2 separate regions of the Homo sapiens genome follow, and region 2 is linked to region 1. A link means that fine-mapping ties the variant in region 1 to the expression of a gene that starts in the linked region. Tissue or cell type: whole blood. Region 1 holds a variant in brackets; the other region holds the start of a gene. All regions are shown on one strand. Distances are between the middles of the regions.

Region 1 (5,125 bases):
TGAGCCTGCCCAGTATTCACTGTTCACAACTTTGATTACTGGCTACAAGAAATATTTTCTTGCCTTCCCCAAATCCCATACTCCCCAGAATCTGCTGGCAAAGTGAGCCCTGGTACAGGATTTAATTGTGACCTCGTCTTCCCTGACCTGTGTAAGCATCTCTGTATCCTTTCGGTTTTAATATCTGCACTGCCAAAAGCAGTCCTCATACTTGCAAAAGGTCTGACAAGGTTCTCTCCACATACATTCCAGTATGTAAAGAGACCATGAATATTTCAGTAAGAGCAAGAACATGACTCCATCAGTGTGAAATTTCAAATGTGATTATAAATATGGGAGAGTCCTATAGGAGGGTCCACCAGAGATAAACTTCACGGAAAACGTTCCCTAACCTCCTTTAAAAGAATAGAGGATGGCAGATTGTTCCAAAAGGAATGGCTTGGGTTTTTAACTAACAAATGTTAGCAAGCCTTTCTTGAATTCACTATGTATTCAAACTTCTAATATGCTTTGTGATTTTTTTCTTTCATTTCTTTCTGTCTGAGGTAACCAGGAATTGCGTTCAAAATGAGCTCATTTGTGATCAGGCTTAAAAGTTGCCCAAGCTGAGGTCGTTTCCCCCCAGTCACAAAGCAGAATGTTTTTCTCAAGACTTCATAGGCACTTACTGGTCCGTACTATCTTTGGAATATAATTAGAAGCTTTGAATCCTTGAAAAGCAAACCTGTTCTCTTCATCAAAAATGCTAACCACCTGTGCCCGTGGATCAATATCACCTGGATGTAGTGCTTGATATTTTTCCCAACTCAGAAGAAAACCATTATGGTTTAGAGAGGAAATGCAGAATGGCAGAATCCACCAGAGAAATTGCACTTATCGAAACAGGCCAAGGCCTGCATGTGTTCGGATAAATCATTTAGTATTGTGTAAATAAAGCTGCAGCCTTTACTTCGGAGGGATGGTGTGGGATTTTGGCCGAGGGAAGCAGGACAGAGAAGGAGCAGGAAGCTATGCTAATTTTCCTGTCAGCTTAAGGGATCCGTCTCAGCAAGAATCTTGTATTCTGATAACGGAATGCTGTACGTGCTGACCACATCTAAGAACCATTAAAAAGCAAGGAAACAAACAAACAACCCTTTTCTCATTCCGACACACGAATAGTCATCGAGTATTACACCAGCCCCTCTGGTGGCTTCCTTCAAAACTGTTGATCTTAGCTAAAGTGTATAACCAGTTACCAGCTGCACTTCGCACGGCCATCCCGTCCACAATGCAGCAGACTCTTCCCAAGGCCACCTAGCAAGCAAGGTTGATCGGATCATCTAAACTGGCCGCCTCCTGAATATTTCACTGAATCCTGGCGTTCATGTTGAAGCAGACAAAATGAGAAAGGAGGAGGGCATTGCTCACCTCTCAATAGCTTTTTTCGTTCAAGTTCTATGTCTTTATCAGCTCTTGCCTGTGATTTTACCCCAATTCAACCTTGGGAGTGGGAAGAATATGAACAGATAACCCTTGGCCTAACAGCTCCATCAAACCTCCTTGAGAGCAACTACCTAGGCCAGGCTAGTGAGTGCTTTGTGAGGAAGCTGGTCAGAAGGTTCCCTCAACTCCTTCCTGGTCCTCCTGGACACTGCAGAAAAGACTTAGGGGATCCCCAGCAGAGGCCAATTGCTCTCCTTCCTTCCCTGCCCCACCAGGAAAGGAATAACGTCCACAGACTTGAAGCAGATAGTGAAGTAGATCTGTGAGAGGTTCTAGGTACTTAGTGTGTAGACTTTGACGAATATTTCTCAAGTTGGGAGCCCTTGTTAAAAATGATGTTTAAGGGAGTGGTTGGGGGGAAGATGAAGGCATGGAGGAGGAAGAAGAGAAGGAAGCCCTTGCCATATAAAATTCATGCAGACTAAACAGTTTCCCTGACAGAATAAATAAAGTGGATGCTACCCCACTCCAGAATCAAAAGCAATTTAATTAAAGTCTCTTAAGTTGTAAAGAGTTTTAAATGATCCGTGTTGAAGGCGAATGCCTGCAAATGCAGTGGGTCTGACGTCAGCTGCCGGGCCTGGGCTGGGAGGCCATTTGCTATTCTGTTTAAGGCAGGCTGGATTGTCTTATTTTGGAACCAGCTTGGTGGGGGGTTTGCTTTGCTACTGCTTCTGAGCCCTGAGCTTCAAAGGCTGAAATTAATGGTGAACAAAATTGTGCGGCTCTGGCCATCCCATGCGGGGCAAGCCCATTGAGGGTTATCATTAAGTAAAGAAATAAAGAGGGGGAAAAAAGCCTGCCTGTTCCAAAAACCTCATCAGATAATGACCTCAGTGATTGGGTTTTCATTACCAAACAGCATCCAGAGATTATCAACCCATAGAAGAAGGGAGGGGAAAAAAAAGAAAGAAAGGAAAAGCAACTGTCTTTCTCTCCCTCTCTTTCTCCTTTTTTTTTGCACATCTTTTCTTTAAAACTGTCAGATCATTTCAGTATTTCAAATCCGAGGAAAACAGCCTGCCTGCTGCTGTATTTGAAGTTGTAATGGTGTCAAAAAGTCACGACTGACTGACAGCCGTCAGTCCCAGAGGGGCTCATTAAATCATAAAAACTTGACAAGGAAATAATTGCGCATTGCCAGCAACTTGGCGCCTGTTTAGACGTTTTTATTTTCTTTCATTATTAGTCCCCACCATTACGTTCATTAACAAATTGCATTAAACAACTGTTAAGGGCTAATGATTTGTTTATCGCTTTTTTTTATTATTATTATTTAAACATTAGCTGTGTCATGTGGTACCC[CA/C]AGCAGCCTCTTGCCATCATCTGACTGAATATTTTTCCACTCCGAGCTCTGGGTACTGTTGGAATATGAAATAGATTATTCATTACTCTCCTCTTTGCCACTGATTTGGTTTCATGTAGCGTCTTCCACAGAGAAAGATGAAAACTTGTCAAAAATAGGTTATATCTTATTCGAAGGGGCAACAATAGCAGCAGGTACAGGCACACTTTAATATTTAATTAAGGTTGATGTTAACCCCTTTAAATGACTTTAGCTGTAAGTTGTATTCAAATGCAGAAGAGAAAAATAATTGTTCTTAATTTGCAACCTGTTCAGCAGGCGTTCTTCATGGAGTGAGCTGGAAATTTAGGGCAGAATTTTTAAATAATGAAATTTCCCATCGTAAATATTAATAGCAGTTTGTCTACGTAGTGGAGAATTAACTAGGAGTGATGATTTCCTCATCCCTTTGGTTTGAACTGCTAGCCTAGTGAGGCACTCCATGCTTGGGAGTGGAGGTGGCTTTCCTGGGAGAAACGTGTGTGTGGAGGGGAAGTTCAGAGCCAAGTTCTGTTGGTTGGTTGTGGTCAGCGCTGGTTTCAGAGGAACCACCGTGAGTCCCTGGTCTCCAAGCCACTTGCCTTCCCCTTTGGCTGGGTGTGTTGTTGCAGGGATGTGGGCAGGCGGGAGAGCCAGTAGAGACATCTTAAAGGAAGATGTGTGTCTGGTTGGCTGGTTTGGGGAGGGTCTGATTGGGGGTATGTCTTGGGCATCTCCGTGCCGTCAACTGGAGCTCATTACAAACAGCGCTTCCCTAATATGCAACAGGGAGACACTTTGCTGAGATGGGCCTTCTGTCCTTTTTCCTTTCTGTGACTTGCTATTGGTGAATGGCTCTTCTTTTCCATGGACCATGAGCTTGAAGGGCCAGGGAGGACAAAGCCCCATCGTCCTCATCCTAAATCGGAAGTCAGTGGCCTTCTCCATGCTATGGCTGCTGTCTATGTCTGCTCAGCCTGTTTGTTTGATGAGTTTATATAACCATGGAAGCCACCCTCAGAGGCCCGGTTCATTGACACTTCAGGGCAGGGGTGTTGGGTCAATATCAGGGAATGGGAAGTTCCTTTCTCCCATCCCCAGAGGGACCAGGCCCCTTATGTAGCTCCACCATGGGTGTGAGGGGAAGAGATGGTGCACGTTCCTTGCTCAGTGTAGCATCTCTCAGCATCACCCATCCAAGGACAGATGGTCCTGCAGGAGCCACGGCGTGGGAGGTACCTGCCTGGCAGGCACGAGCCAGGTGGGACCTGGCCTCAAGCCTCTTTGGTTACTATGGGCGTAGGAACAGCAGACATGCCAGGCTTTGGAGGATCTCAAGCCTCCATTTCAATCCAGGATAAATTAGCCACATGACAATCTGTCCCCCTTGGGATGGCCTTCACACCTCAACAGAAAAGGTACCAAGAGCCATTTTTCCAAAAGGAAGAAAGGAAGGAAGAAAGGAAGGAAGGCTGGCTCTGTGAAGAGCCATCCTCAGTCCAACTCCCAGTGACCCTGGTTGAGGGTCTGCCTGAGACTAGCTCAAACTCAACCTCACCCTATGCAGTAACTCTCTAACTCTAAACTAGCCCCCAAGAGATATTCTGGTGGCTTCACTTTGCCTGTGACCCATCAGACTCAGACCAGTGGCACCTGCCAGAGGCTGGCCACATAATGTCAGCAGTCAGGTGGCTCTCAGCCCAGATGCCAGTCTTTGTTAAACAGGGCAGGTGACTGCGTGGACAGCTCAGAAAAGCTCCTGAAGCCACAAATATTGCACCCAAGATGGATGAGAGCAGCCAGGCCCAGGCAGCAAGAGTCTGTCACTGGAGCCAGGACTTCCTGAAATGAGTGACTGAGCCAGGGTTAGTGTCCTGTTGTGGAGGAGGGCAGATGCGGGGAGTGCAGAGTGAGTTCCCATCTCTATTGGGATTCCAGCGCAGTAACAAGGAGCCAGCTTACCAGAGGCGAGCAGGGCAAAAGCAAGATGGCAGGATGGGGCACGATATGTTGGGGGTTGGGTAGCAGAGGGTGGACAGGTGAGGGATGGAGGGTTTTTCTAGCACCAGGGGATAGCAAGGGCAAGTAGGCCCCCTTGAGCTCATCACTGCCCTTCTTCAGGAGGAGCTAAAGAGGGGGAAAGACAGGGTGCATCTCTCCAGGGCCCCCTGCCCCAGTCAAACACCCCTGTGGCCATAGCTCCTGGGCTCCCAGTGTGCCATGGGGAAAGCACTTCCTCATCCGGAATCGCTCGTTACTCGTGCTACATGAAGAACTCAGACATCACAGAGGGGGCAGTCGCCAGGAAGCAGAGCT
Region 2 (5,149 bases), 370 kb before region 1:
ATGATCTTTTCCCCAGTCACACAGGGCTGTCTACTGTTTCTGAATACGTGGTCCCACCATTCTTTCAACCTGAAATGCCCTCTTCCCCATCTCCTTTGGAAATTCCCACTCCTCCCTCAGGTCCCCAACTAACAATGCTCAATTCTTCTAACTTTAACAGCACCCATCACGTTCTACTTTATAGTTTAGTGATTTGCACAAGTGCGTTTGTTTCTTGCTTAGGTTATAAGCTCTTTCAGAGTTCAAATTACATCTTACCCTCCTCTGTACGCATTTTGAATAGTACATAGCACATGATATACACCAGTGCTTCCCGAACTTTAATATACCTAAGCATCACCTGGGCACTTTATTAAAATAAAGATTCTGCTTCAGTATGTCTGAAGTGGAGCCCAAGATTCTGCCTTTCTGACAAGCCATCAGGTGTGGTCCCTTAGCAGGAAACATGGACATTCATAAGCATAAATTTCCCAGTAGTTTTTAAGCTATAAATGGATTTGGACTATACTTCCCAATGTTATATTTTCAGTGCAATGATTTTAAAACTTTATGATTTAAACCAGCAGTTTCTAAAGCGTTTTTCTCAGTTCTAAGGGATGTTAATGTATTACATGAAAAAAGGTACTACAGCCAAACCTCACTGTGTATGACATGTGATGTTTCCTAAACTTTTGACCATGAACCTATCCCACCTCCACCCCACCTCCATCTTTTTTTTAATGCAGAGCAAATATTCAATAAAATTGCTTTGGAAAATGCTATTTTGGATCAATGTGTTCAAACAGATATGAAATAAAGTCTCCGAGCCTAAATGATCAGTGATTAGAGTAATATACTTAGTCTCTGTGAGGACAAACAGTAGGCTGTGTTTGGTATTATTGGTTAGTAGATAAGGCAAAAACCAAATATACGATTATCATTAAAGTTCATTGTCTTACAGAATCTTTCTTACCGGTTTCCACCCCAGAGGGACAAAGCCCGGACCGACAAACATGGCATTGAAGTAATTATAAAGAATCATGACAGTCCAATTTATCAACATGATGAAATTCACACTTCCTCCAGTTGTATGTAAGGGCCAATACCACAACACAGAGTCAATCATGGCCATGGTAGAACATATTGCTATAACACCAAGGGCTATGATGGGACCCCAGTGACACAGTCTCTTTAATTCTTGTAGATTTTCAAACTTGATAACCGAACAGAATGTACCCATTTTGGCAAGGAAGAATGCCTTCCTACTTTAAAAGAATTATAGATTTCCTTTTTCTGTGCGCACATTTCCATGTGCCACAAGTCCATGTGTGTTCTTTAATTGTCATGCCTTCAAGCTGTGAACTGTTAACGCAGATTACACCATTTTCACTGTCAGGCACCCAAAGCTCTTTATCTTAACTAGGAGAATCCAGTGTCTTGGTCTGAAACCCAACCTAAAGAAAACAAAATGGGAAAGTTCAGTTAAAACAAAACAAAACAAAACCTTTATTGCATACCATACTTGTTAACTACAATAAACACCTACACAACAGCATCTCACAAGTGCACTACACTTTGGGATGCATATCTTGTCAAATGTCAAAAAGAACTACTTTTGACTTATCCAAAATATGGTACAAGTTTGAATGGCATGCAAACTGGATACACGATTCCAAAATAGTTTTTTTTATTCCTTCTCCGCTTGTCAGGGGACTGTCACCATCCAACGCTTAGTGAATAGTTTGAGAAGACAAAGAATTTTAGGACCTTAGAGTTGATCTAATTCAGTTTCCTTCTTCATAGAACAGAAATTGTCTTAGAGAGGCTGAGTGATTAGACCAAGGTCACAAGTAACAGGTGAACCAGAATAGAAGGCAAGTCAACGACCTCCCTTTATGAAATTCTAAGCTGCCTCTTATGAAGTCTTGAATTAAGCCAAGTATGAGTCAGACATGGTCTATGCCATTTGCCTGCAGTCTCCTCCACCCCGCCACCCAAACATCAAGAGAACAGTCAATTTGGCCCAAAAGTAAAGGAGCGACAGTGAAAGCAAAGAGAGCATGCAAGGAAAGGAAGGGAGGAGATAGAGCGAGAGTGTGTGTGGTGTGTGTGAAATTATGACCAGAAGAGTATATGAGAAGAACCTGAATTAGAAGATTCGAGGGAAGAAAGAAGAGGAAGTGCCTCCAGGAGCGAGGGAAATGGAAGGCAGGGCGGCGAGCTCCGGAGAGATTTGTGGAAGGGCATCTCTGCCTGGACTGGATCTGAAGATCTGGAAGAGGATCTGAGCTACATGGATAATACAGACTACCACGCAGCAGACGCTGTTGACTTGTGCCTCAGTTTCCCGCCCGAGTCATGGAGCAGAGGGCTTAGAAATAAATCCTCACCCAAGGAAGAAATATCCTGGTAAGCCAGGTTGGTCTCAACATTCAGGAGAGCCTGCTCCCACTCTGGTGGGACAAAGACCACCAAAATCGTGCTTATATTCCCTGCCTTGACTCCCACCTCAGTGTGGTCCCTGGTGTCTGCTCCTCAGCCATCGCATATCCGGGGCGGCCTGGGCTCACCCGGAACAGATTTTTTCCTCCTTGGATGACTCCGTCATGGACACCTCAGCCCAGGACAAGCAGAGAGCAAACCCTGGCAGCGAGAGGCTGGAGTGCGGGACCTGCTACAAGCCGAGCACCTCTCGGCCAGCGCCCTCGCCAGGACTCTCCCGCTCAGGCCCCCTGCGCAGTCTCTGTTACTGTCACTTCCGGAGGTTCGCCGCCTCAAACCTCCCTCCGGAAGCAAGCTGCTGTGCCTTGTAGCGTGTGGATCCGGAGCCGATTCCCAGAACACGAAGGGGGGAAAAAACGCTTCTAATGATCCCTCAGAACTTGCATATTTTCATACGCTTTTCTGGGGGGAGGCACTAATTGGGGCGCTTTTCCTTTGCGAACTTACTTATCTTAAAGTCGGAGCGGAAAATAAAGCACGCACGCAACCCAATTTCCGGAGAACCGAGATTGCGACGAACAACCAGGAAGCGGCTGGGTTGAGAGCTGTCCCCGGTTCTCCGTTCTGCTCTCGGGGGCACCTTCCGGGGTTCCTAAGCCGCGGGGCCCCTCGCTGCCCCTCGAGGCCCTTTCCCTGACCTAGGCTTTGGCCTGGGCTACTCGTTCCGGAGCCGCCATGTCGTCCGACTTCGAAGGTTACGAGCAGGACTTCGCGGTGCTCACTGCAGAGATCACCAGCAAGATTGCGAGGGTCCCACGACTCCCGCCTGGTGAGAGCCTTGCCCGGCTGGACGAGGGTGCTGGGGAGAGCTGGGAGGGTGCGGGCGGTGGAACGCCGCCCGAGTAAGTGTGTCTATGAGGCGCGAGGCTGGAGTGGGTGGTGCCGGCTGTTCCCAGGAGGGATACGGCTTGGCTTGGTTGAGGGTAAGGAGTCAAGTTCGGGTGTGGGGTGCCGTGAAAAGAGCCTTCGGAATCTGAGCCATCTGAGTTCGAATCCCGGCTCTACCTTCTTGTAACTTGCATAACCTGGAAACGTTTCTTAACGTCTTAAGAGTCTTAATGTTTTCATTTGTAAATTATAGACATGTGAGTATTCAAAGAAAATGAATGAAAGTATGTAGCCTATGGATCTACAATCTACAGCGGCGTTGTTGTGTTAGTAATAATATTGTTATAATTATATGCGGCAAAATAGAGGTAAGAATCAGGGTGCCTAGATTCAAATCCTACCTCTGTCACTTAGAAGTTGTGCCTCTTAACCCGGGAGGCGGAGGTTGCAGTGAGCCAAGATCTCGCCATTGCACTCCAGCCTAGGCAACAAGAGTGAAACTCCGTCTCAAATAAATAAATAAAATAAAAGTTGTGCCTCTTAAACAGACTTCTTAGTCTCTTTCAACTTTCCTTCTTAGTAAATGGGGGAAAATTGTACTTCTCTCATGGGGTTGTTAGGTAGATTAAATTTATATAACATATTTAAAGTCACTTTTGGTGTTGTTAGTTGCTGTATTAGCATTAGTATTTTTCATACCCCCCACCCCCATTTCTTGTTTCTCATCCTTCTTGGGGATTTATTGTATAACCCAGTTTCATGTAAAACTTGGTACAAGATAATTTTTCACACTTAAAAATTTCACATCTCCCATCTGGAAATGTTTTTGTTTTTGTGTTTCCTTTTGTGTTTTAGCACATCTTATTTTCTATGCTAGACTGTCAACTATGTGAAGGTGGGAGCTGTGTCTGATTTCCTTGGCGTTTACTTATTAGGGGCTCAGGAAAATAAGTGAATGAGCAGGTGAATATAAATATGATCTTTTGTAACTATGGTTTGTACAATGTTGATTCGGGGACTATCTTTCTCTACAGATTAGAGTAGTTAGTTACAGAAAAGGGTTTTACATTTTTGTTTAGTTTTGTTAGGGAAATTGAACCATCATCTGGCTGCTAGACTTGTCCCTACCCTAGCTCCAGGATATAAAGTGTAGAAAGGTGGATGTGCTCATTAATCTGCGGATTGGTGGGCACTTCACTTGCCCACTTGTCCTGGTACTAGCAATAATTTCTCCCGGACCTAAGTTGTCATTCCTCTTTCCCTTTCCCTACTTCCCCCAAAACTTATGTGTTTATAAGTAATTTTCTTCCCTTATTTCTTTGTTTTTCTTCCCCTCACCTATTTTCTGTTAATAGGGATATTTGCTTGAAGCCAGGATCTCTGAACTTATACCCCACTCATCTCCTGAAGTCCCCAGTTAGTTCTGGAGGAGATGGATGATGTCTTAAAGAGGTTTATGAGTCCAAGTAAGGGAACAAGAGGAGAGAACCAAGGTAGTATATACCACCAAGCTCTGCTGCCTCAGAGATTTTTGTGTCGAAAGTGGCTGATGGCCTCATCTCTTCATGATACATCACCTCGCCTCTTCTCTTCAGTTCTGCTTTTCTCCACTGCCGGAGATCGTCTTGATTTTTGTTATTGTTGGAGACTACTTCCTTTGAATTGAGTCCCAGAGCCTCAGAGTATCAGGACTTGTGGTTCCAGTTAGAGTTTTACTCATTTTTAATTGTAATTGTTTTAGCAGTAGAAACATTTCTTTGGGTTATTAGTTTTTGTATTGGGAAGCTGTTTTACAAGGTAACAAAATCATCCTTGGATGCAAAGTTGTAAATTTCCAAGA

Evidence for each region. PIP is the estimated chance that this variant, and not a neighbour inherited with it, causes the effect.
Region 2: it holds the start of VTI1A, and the variant in region 1 is fine-mapped to the expression of VTI1A in whole blood (INTERVAL, PIP above 0.99).

Annotation. Positions count from the first base shown.
Region 1 is chr10:112,816,018-112,821,142 of GRCh38, forward strand. VTI1A (vesicle transport through interaction with t-SNAREs 1A) reads left to right here. Exons shown (of 8, transcript NM_145206.4): 8 at 1-2,727. Among named protein-coding and RNA genes, the nearest start is that of LINC02935, 72 kb to the right of the region's middle. The variant CA/C (reference allele first, on the strand shown) is at 2,791.
Region 2 is chr10:112,444,218-112,449,366 of GRCh38, forward strand. VTI1A (vesicle transport through interaction with t-SNAREs 1A) reads left to right here and starts at 2,998. Exons shown (of 8, transcript NM_145206.4): 1 at 2,998-3,250. The coding sequence starts at 3,157. It overlaps ZDHHC6 (zDHHC palmitoyltransferase 6), which reads right to left and starts at 2,697. Exons shown (of 11, transcript NM_022494.3): 1 at 2,488-2,697; 2 at 953-1,433. The coding sequence starts at 1,219. RefSeq lists enhancers at 2,484-2,603, 2,804-3,063.